Linked DNA regions of Homo sapiens. The protein of the gene in region 1 purifies or fractionates together with the protein of each later gene. This does not show direct contact. Each region holds a gene or a part of one and is shown in the gene's direction. Other genes may lie near its edges.

The links.
Region 2: the proteins of PRMT7 (region 1) and REPS2 purify together in Homo sapiens (affinity purification with mass spectrometry; one large-scale study listed by BioGRID and IntAct). This does not show direct contact.

What each region holds. Positions count from the first base shown.
Region 1 is NC_000016.10:68,355,972-68,359,346, forward strand, and holds the end of PRMT7 (protein arginine N-methyltransferase 7), read left to right. Parts: intron 1-58; exon of another isoform or gene 59-169; coding exon of another isoform or gene 170-239; exon of another isoform or gene 240-244; intron 245-729; coding exon 730-826; intron 827-1,082; coding exon 1,083-1,253; 3' UTR 1,254-1,799; coding exon of another isoform or gene 1,800-1,803; 3' UTR 1,804-1,822; coding exon of another isoform or gene 1,823-1,907; 3' UTR 1,908-2,613; downstream 2,614-3,375. UniProt on the Homo sapiens protein: Arginine methyltransferase that can both catalyze the formation of omega-N monomethylarginine (MMA) and symmetrical dimethylarginine (sDMA), with a preference for the formation of MMA.
Region 2 is NC_000023.11:17,131,617-17,135,425, forward strand, and holds part of REPS2 (ralBP1-associated Eps domain-containing protein 2), read left to right. Parts: intron 1-1,224; exon of another isoform or gene 1,225-1,782; intron 1,783-2,207; coding exon 2,208-2,291; exon of another isoform or gene 2,292-2,292; intron 2,293-3,644; coding exon 3,645-3,790; intron 3,791-3,809. UniProt on the Homo sapiens protein: Involved in ligand-dependent receptor mediated endocytosis of the EGF and insulin receptors as part of the Ral signaling pathway. By controlling growth factor receptors endocytosis may regulate cell survival.

The sequences.
Region 1 (3,375 bases):
GACGCTGACACGTGGAGGGGGTATTCGTCCTCCCCACAACCTTGCCCTTCCCTGTCAGAGTGGCCCTGCGCGTGTGGTGGTTCCCACGGTCCTGTGTGTGCCACTGGTGGAGGAGCCAGGAAGGGCTCTGCTCCCCCTCTACAGCTGAGGCTCCCTTGTTGGATCACAGCTCAGGAAGATGGGAGCTTACTTCCTGTGGTCACCGATGCACCATTTTCCTGAACCCTCCTGGGAGCTGAAGCAGGTCAGGGTCAGCAAGTGCTGCTTGCGTCCAGGGACGGGCAGCCCTGTCCTGCTCCGGCCCTCACCCCACCCTCGCCCGAGGAGTGACTTCTCCTGGAAGCACCTCCCAACTCGGGGCAGGCAGCCAGGCAGGGCGGGCGCCATCACCTGAGCTCCCAGGGTTGCTGTCTGGGGCATCAGAGGGGCCTTCCGGCCTTCAGTGCCAGGCTGTGCCTCAAGCTCCCCCAGACCCTGCAGCCACACCGGCCCTGCCCCATGTGTGGCCCGGCTGCAGGGCTCGGGTTGGCTCAGGTGGGGGCTTGGCTGCGGCTCTTCTGGCTGGGGTTTTTCTGAGGAACGTTTATGTAACTGCAGCACTAGGAACTCCCGGCAGGGCAGGAAGGAAGTGGGGAAGACCACAGGTTTCTGGAAAGCCGCAGGAGCTGCAGCTGTTCCCCCGCTGCCTCTTGTGTGACTACTTCTGCTGGGCCCCCCTCTCCTTGACAGGCCCGGGCAGAGCCACGCAGCGGTGCTATGGATGGAGTACCACCTGACCCCGGAGTGCACGCTCAGCACTGGCCTCCTGGAGCCTGCAGACCCCGAGGTAGTGCCTGCGCACCGGGCCCAGTGTGCGTGCAGACCCTGAGAGCAGGCGCCGCCTGGGGAGGCCTCCCTGCCCCCATGCTCTGGGTGTTTCTGTCACAAGTTCTTCGGGCCAGATGATGACCCCTCAGTGGTCCTGGGCCATCTGGCCCCTGAGCAGCTTCTCTCTGCTGCGAGCTGCCTGGGCTGGAGGCTGGCTAGGAAGGAGGCTCAGGTGCCAGGGAGCCCTCACCATCTTCCTGCTCTTCTTCCTACAGGGGGGCTGCTGCTGGAACCCCCACTGCAAGCAGGCCGTCTACTTCTTCAGCCCTGCCCCAGATCCCAGAGCACTGCTGGGTGGCCCACGGACTGTCAGCTATGCAGTGGAGTTTCACCCCGACACAGGCGACATCATCATGGAGTTCAGGCATGCAGATACCCCAGACTGACCACTCTTGAGCAATAAAGTGGCCTGAGGGCTGGGGTTCTGAGTGGCTCATGGCTTTCTAGCGGGGAAGGCTGAAGGCCCTCCTCTCCTCTCTGGGAGCTGCTCGGCCTCAGGGATGGGAAAGACTGCGCCGTGTTGCATCTTGTTGCATCTTTGCACTGCTGGCCTCTGGCTCCAGCTGTGGCAGGAAGCATGAGAGGGTGACTGAATTTGGAGCCCTGGAGGGGCTGGGAAGACCCCCCTGCTTGTGCTTCTGAGGTGCTGAGAATGCTCCAACACAGAGACATCTCTCCCCAGCTGGGAAGGGAGTGGAAGCACAGGGAGCTTGTGGGGCTGGCCGGTGGGGTTGTCCACGCCGCCCTTGGCGAGCAGTCCCCGTGGCGGGAGCCTGTCCTGTCTGTCTCACTCTCGAGGATCTCCGGGTCCCTGCTCTTCTGGCTTCTGCTAGGAGGGTGGAGATGCTGAGTTGTGGCTGGGTCTCTGGGGCTTGAAGACCCTGGCTGGGCCCGGGCTGAGAGGCCTGGGTTCTGGCCCTTTCACCTGACAGGTAACTTCAAGCCACATCCATAGGTGTCTGGCCTCAGTGCTGCACCAGCTGGTGGCCTGCCAGGACCTGAGACTGGACACAAGGCAGCTGTCCCAGAGCAGTTCCTGAGATGCAGGCCCAGGAAAGTGGCTGTCAGGGGAGCTGGGAGGCAGCCCTGTTCCCTGCACCTCCCTCAGATTGGAAAGCCCCTCCTGCAGGTGGGGTATGGCAGGGAGCAGCCCCTGCCCAGCGCCGCTTCACCAGGAAGGTCAGTAGGTGCCGTGGCCTTGCTTCTCTCACACACTAACCCCCCTTTGGTTATGTCCCAGCTCTCAGAGGTAACAGCAGACACCACGTGAGAGAACCCAGTGGCCTCTGGCTCGCAGCTTAGAAGGTGAGGCTTGTGCCAGGCCAGCCGAGCCGCCTGTATGAGCAGAGTTCCGGTGTCCTCGGATTCAGGGCAGACTTGGGCAGTGCCTGTCCTGCAGTTGGGGGCAGGAACTCCCTCCCCTGCCCCCAGGCGTGCCCCTGAGGCCTGGCCCCAGCTTGTCGCTGAAATAAGTGGAGAACACCAGCCTTGAGCCTCACAGTTTTATTTTCTCCTCGTTATCCATCCTTCCTTTCAGCACCAGTAAGGAAAAAGAACACCTCTCTTCGCAAAATATTTTATCAGGTGTAAAGACTTGTTTTTCTTCTAGGGAAGAACCGTCTGGATATATATTTGATAATGTTTTTACCAAAACCATAGGTGTGCTTACCATAGAAAACCCCTAATGTCCCATGAAGATACAATACAGAAAAAAATACAGAAATTAAAAAAGTTTTTATAACAGTATTTCTAAATCTCAGCAAGTTAAAAAGCAATAGTTAAAAAGCATCAAGATTAATATACTTAAAACTTAAGGTGGTTTTGGACAAATGAAAATGAACATTTCCTTCCTCAGTGGCCCCCGCGCCTTGTGGCTTCCTTTGAGACTGGGCCTAGGGCAGGAACAGAGTCTTGGTATGGGCCTCGGGTGACCCGTGTGCCCACCCCTGCTAGGCCTTAGATGCCACAGAATCTGAGATCCAGCAATGGTTCACTTTAAAAAATCAGTGGAAGGGCCTGGCCTGCACACAAGGCCCGGGAGTCCATAGGCAGCCACAATGAGACACGTGGGTGGGGGGGTCCCGGTCTTGGTGCTGAGGGAGGTGTGCGGGGGCCTGGGGGCCGCACATCCTTACTCTGGACCCCAGGACCTGACTAGGCAGAGGCGACCTTGTGATGACAGAAAATGACTTGCCTAAGGCCGCCTGTGAGGTGGGAGGGGAGGAGCATGCAGCCCTGACTCCCACGCCTGCTGCCCCGGGAGGGGGTGCCTGGGTGGGGAAGCTATGTTGGGGTCTGGTGTGGGGGCCCTGCCCGGGCCTCAACTGCTCTCCCTGTGCAGGCAGTCGGCAGGCGGCTCGGGGTCTAGGGGTCCAGGGCCGGCCGGCCCAGTCGCTTGTGTGAGCAGAGTACCAGCTGCTTCTGGAAGTTGGGGGCCTCCACATCATGAATCCCAGTCAAGGCTCACAGGCCAGCCCCTTGGAGGGGTGGGCCGGGCAGAGAGCCCAG
Region 2 (3,809 bases), on another chromosome or scaffold:
TTTGGCATCACTGGCTACTAGTGGCTGAAAGCAGACTAACACACCTGAAGGCAGAAGACTGGGGGAAATGGGGGACATAGAGAGCTGCTCATGAGGCGCAGTCACCCTGTGTTCTTCCACTTGACTGATTGGCACCCACTCTGTCTTGAAGTGCTTTGGGGACATTCCTTGCCAATCTTGGTGAGTTTAGTCACTGATTCCATTCCACTCAGCACCCTTGACCCTTCTGATAACTCCTTCGACCACAGTCCCCCTTCCTTTTTTAAGAAGGGCCATATTTACTAGAGTTTTTTTTTTTTTTTTTCCCAAACTGTGTCCAGGTTTATTAAAGATACTTTTTGTGAACAGTCATGGTATTTCAGGCAGGACATGAGCGACAATCATTAACAGTATACAACTTTCAGACTCCCTCCTTCAATGGACTTCCAAAATCAGAAAGCCATGGTAAAACCCAATGAAGTCTTCATTTGGTACCCTGAAGAGGGAAAGTTCAGAGTGAGGGTTGACATTTCACATTCAACGTGCTGTTTAACAACTTTTCATGAGCTGACCCTGACTTTCAGGAAATGAAATGAAAATGGCAGAATTTATCTGAAGATCCACAATCTAGAAACAGAGCACGTGTCTTTCAAGGGTTCTCGCTGGAAAGTCCAGATTGCCAGCCTGACTGGTAACCAGTTATTGGGGGCCAGACCCCAACAGGTATCTGGGTTTGAGGGAGTTAAGTGTATACTGAAGGCAGAGAGGGAGAGGGGGAAATAAAGAGGAATTTGTTTCTCCACACCACAAGGCCTTTGTGCGAAGGTGACTGTGTGTGTCAACGTCAGACAGTCCCTCTTTCTGGGAGCCAAGAAGATGTCTTTAAAACTAGAAGGGAAAGGTGTTTTCTCCACATCAGTCCAGCTTCATAGACATTCTTTTTCTTTTTTTTCTTTCCTGAGACGAAGTCTTGCTCTTGTTGCCCAGGTTGGAGTGCAGTGGCACGATCTTGGCTCACTGCAGCCTCCGCCTCCCGGCTTCAAGTGATTCTCTTGCCTCAGCCTCCTGAGTAGCTGGGATTACAGGAACCCATCATCACGCCTGGCTAGTTTTTGTACTTTTAGTAGAGACGGGGTTTCGCCATGTTGGTCGGGCTGGTCTCAAACTCCTGACCTCAGGTGATCCGCCTGCTTCGGCCTCCCAAAGTGCTGGGATTACAGGCATGAGCCACGGTGCCTGGCCTCAGAGACATTCTATTAGTGACATATACCCCTTCTCCATAAAACAACAATGACGTGTTCCGTGTGCTAACAACATGGCTTAAAATAAAGGCATAAAAACAATTCTGCATTTTTATAAAACTTAATAAAAAAATAATACTTCAAACTGCACAGTCACCAGAAATACACAGTTATCAAAAATGCACACACTTCCCTTGGCATCCCCAGCGCCTTCAACTTTCTGTGCCTGCTCTGTTTTGGCCTCTGCATTTTCTGCAGAGTTATTCCCCTCCTTGCCAGCATGGGCTTTTTCCTTTTTCCCCTTTACCTTCTCTCCCTTCTTTGCAGGGGCCTCTTTAGGCTTGGGCTTCGGAGGAGCAGGTTTGGCAGACAACCTTGCAGATCTTCTCTGTGGTTTGTCCTTACTTTGGTTTTATCTCCTTTAGCGTCCCCTTCAGCCTTTCTCTTGGGCATGGTGGAGGCGACTGCAGTGGAATGTAGGTGCTGGATCTGGGGATGCAGCAGTGCGTGGGCTTTGGTTGGCCTGGGGGATAGTTCTTACCTCTTCTTCTTCACACTGCTCATAGAGTATTTCTTTATTAGAAATTTAACATTTAAAAAATTCAGTGTTTTTAATGATGTTGATTGTTTTTGTTGGTGCTCAAGTTAAAATCTTTGTTTTCAACCCTGTTTTTCCGATAAGCCTTGTTACTTTTAGAGTTTGTTGTTGCGAAGCATTAGTTTTTTAGCAATACATATGTTCAATTACAGAAGAAATTCCCATGATTCCTTTTCCTAAGGTTGAACAATCTGGGAAGGAGGGATGGGAAGGTTAATAGCAGCATCTATGGGAGGTTTTTCCCAAGGATCAGCAGACTTAAGCATTCTTGGCTGCAACTTGGCCTAAATCAGTTTTCCCTTGGTGACTATCTTCCTAAGTGCTCTTTATTGTATATTTAGGTGATTGTGGTTTTGCATTTCTGTCCTCTCTCTGATCTCTTGCTACAGTCTGAACAAGTGTCGGAGGCCGAGTTACTCCCACAGCTGAGCAGAGCCCCATCCCAGGCTGCAGAAAGTAGTCCAGCAAAGAAGGTAAGGTCAGCCTGAGGATGCTGTCAGATGGCGTTGCGAGTCCCACCCCGGGCTTCTTATCTCTATTAGCTGATCTATTGTTTTAAGGTTTCTGTGTCCTGAAATGAATGTCAATGATCCAGATTTCCTAGAATGTGGGTTCTTTGTGAAGATTGGGGTCCTGAAGATTCCTGGGCTTGACCCTTGATGCATTTTGTACATGACAGTACATACTCAACCTCCTTAGCCCCCCAGCTAAACATGGTGGCCTTGTTTATGGCAAGAGCTAAAAGGGCTGTGGGGAGGGACAGATGTCTTTAGCAAAACCCCATCCACCTGCTAAGCCTCTGTGAATACCTCTTGGGGTGGGGTAGTCTCTCCTTTTTGGTCTTTGTACCATGGTTTCCTCTTGCATCGTGGCATTTTCACCTGGCATCTGCCCAGCCATGCCATTGGGTCACCTGTAATTTGCTCAGTAAGTACCCCTCACTCATCATGCTCTCCATTCATCTCCTCACCCTCTTCTTGTCCTTCTCCCAGGCTCTTCTTTCAGAGAGAGTGGGCCTTGGGCTCAGGAGCACAGGTGAGGTAGAGTCCTCCAAAGAAGCAGACCAACTGTGTCCTTCCAGAATACACTGTGGCTCTTTTTCTTGACTTTATGTAGGAATTGGGGATAGGAGAATGATGAGCATATGACTAAGACCTTTAAAAACTTCCAAAGCTTAGGTTTTTTTTTGTTTTTGTTTTTGTTTTTTTTTCCTGAGACAGAGTCTCGCTTTGTTGCCCAGGCTGGAGTGCAGTGGCGCGATCTCGGCTCACTGCAAGCTCCCAGGTTCACGCCATTCTCCTGCCTCAGCCTTCCGAGTAGCTGGGACTACAGGCATCTTCCAGCAGGCCGGCTAATTTTTTGTATTTTTAGTAGAGACGGGGTTTCACCGTGTTAGCCAGGATGGTCTCGATCTCCTGACCTCGTGATCCGACCGTCTCGGCCTCCCAAAGTGCTGGGATTACAGGCATGAGCCACTGCGCCCGGCCAAAATTTAGGTTTAAAAGGCTTCAAAGTGAGGCAGGAGCCTATCTTGTCTTCAGTTAGGAAAGGCCCCATGGTGTGAGATGCACACAGGGTCTGTGTGAGTTTCAGGTGACAAGAAGTAATAGACTTCTTGAAACATTTAAAAAGAAAAAGAAAAAAGGGAAGACCACTGGACTCTGATGCCTGTGTCCCCCCAGTTCTTGCTGAGCCATGGGTCAGTAAATAGAGTACCCTCCTGATCTTGGGGTTGGGGCTAAAGGCATGTGGGACACTGGAAGGAAGAGTGGAGGGAACATTGAAATGTTTAACTTTTTAATTTTTATTTTGTTTTAAATCCACAGGATGTACTGTATTCTCAGCCACCATCAAAGCCCATTCGTAGGAAATTCAGACCAGAAAACCAAGCTACAGAAAACCAAGAGCCTTCCACTGCTGCAAGTGGGCCAGCTTCTGCGGCAACCATGAAACCGCATCCAACAGTCCAAAAGTAAGTAGACCACATAAAC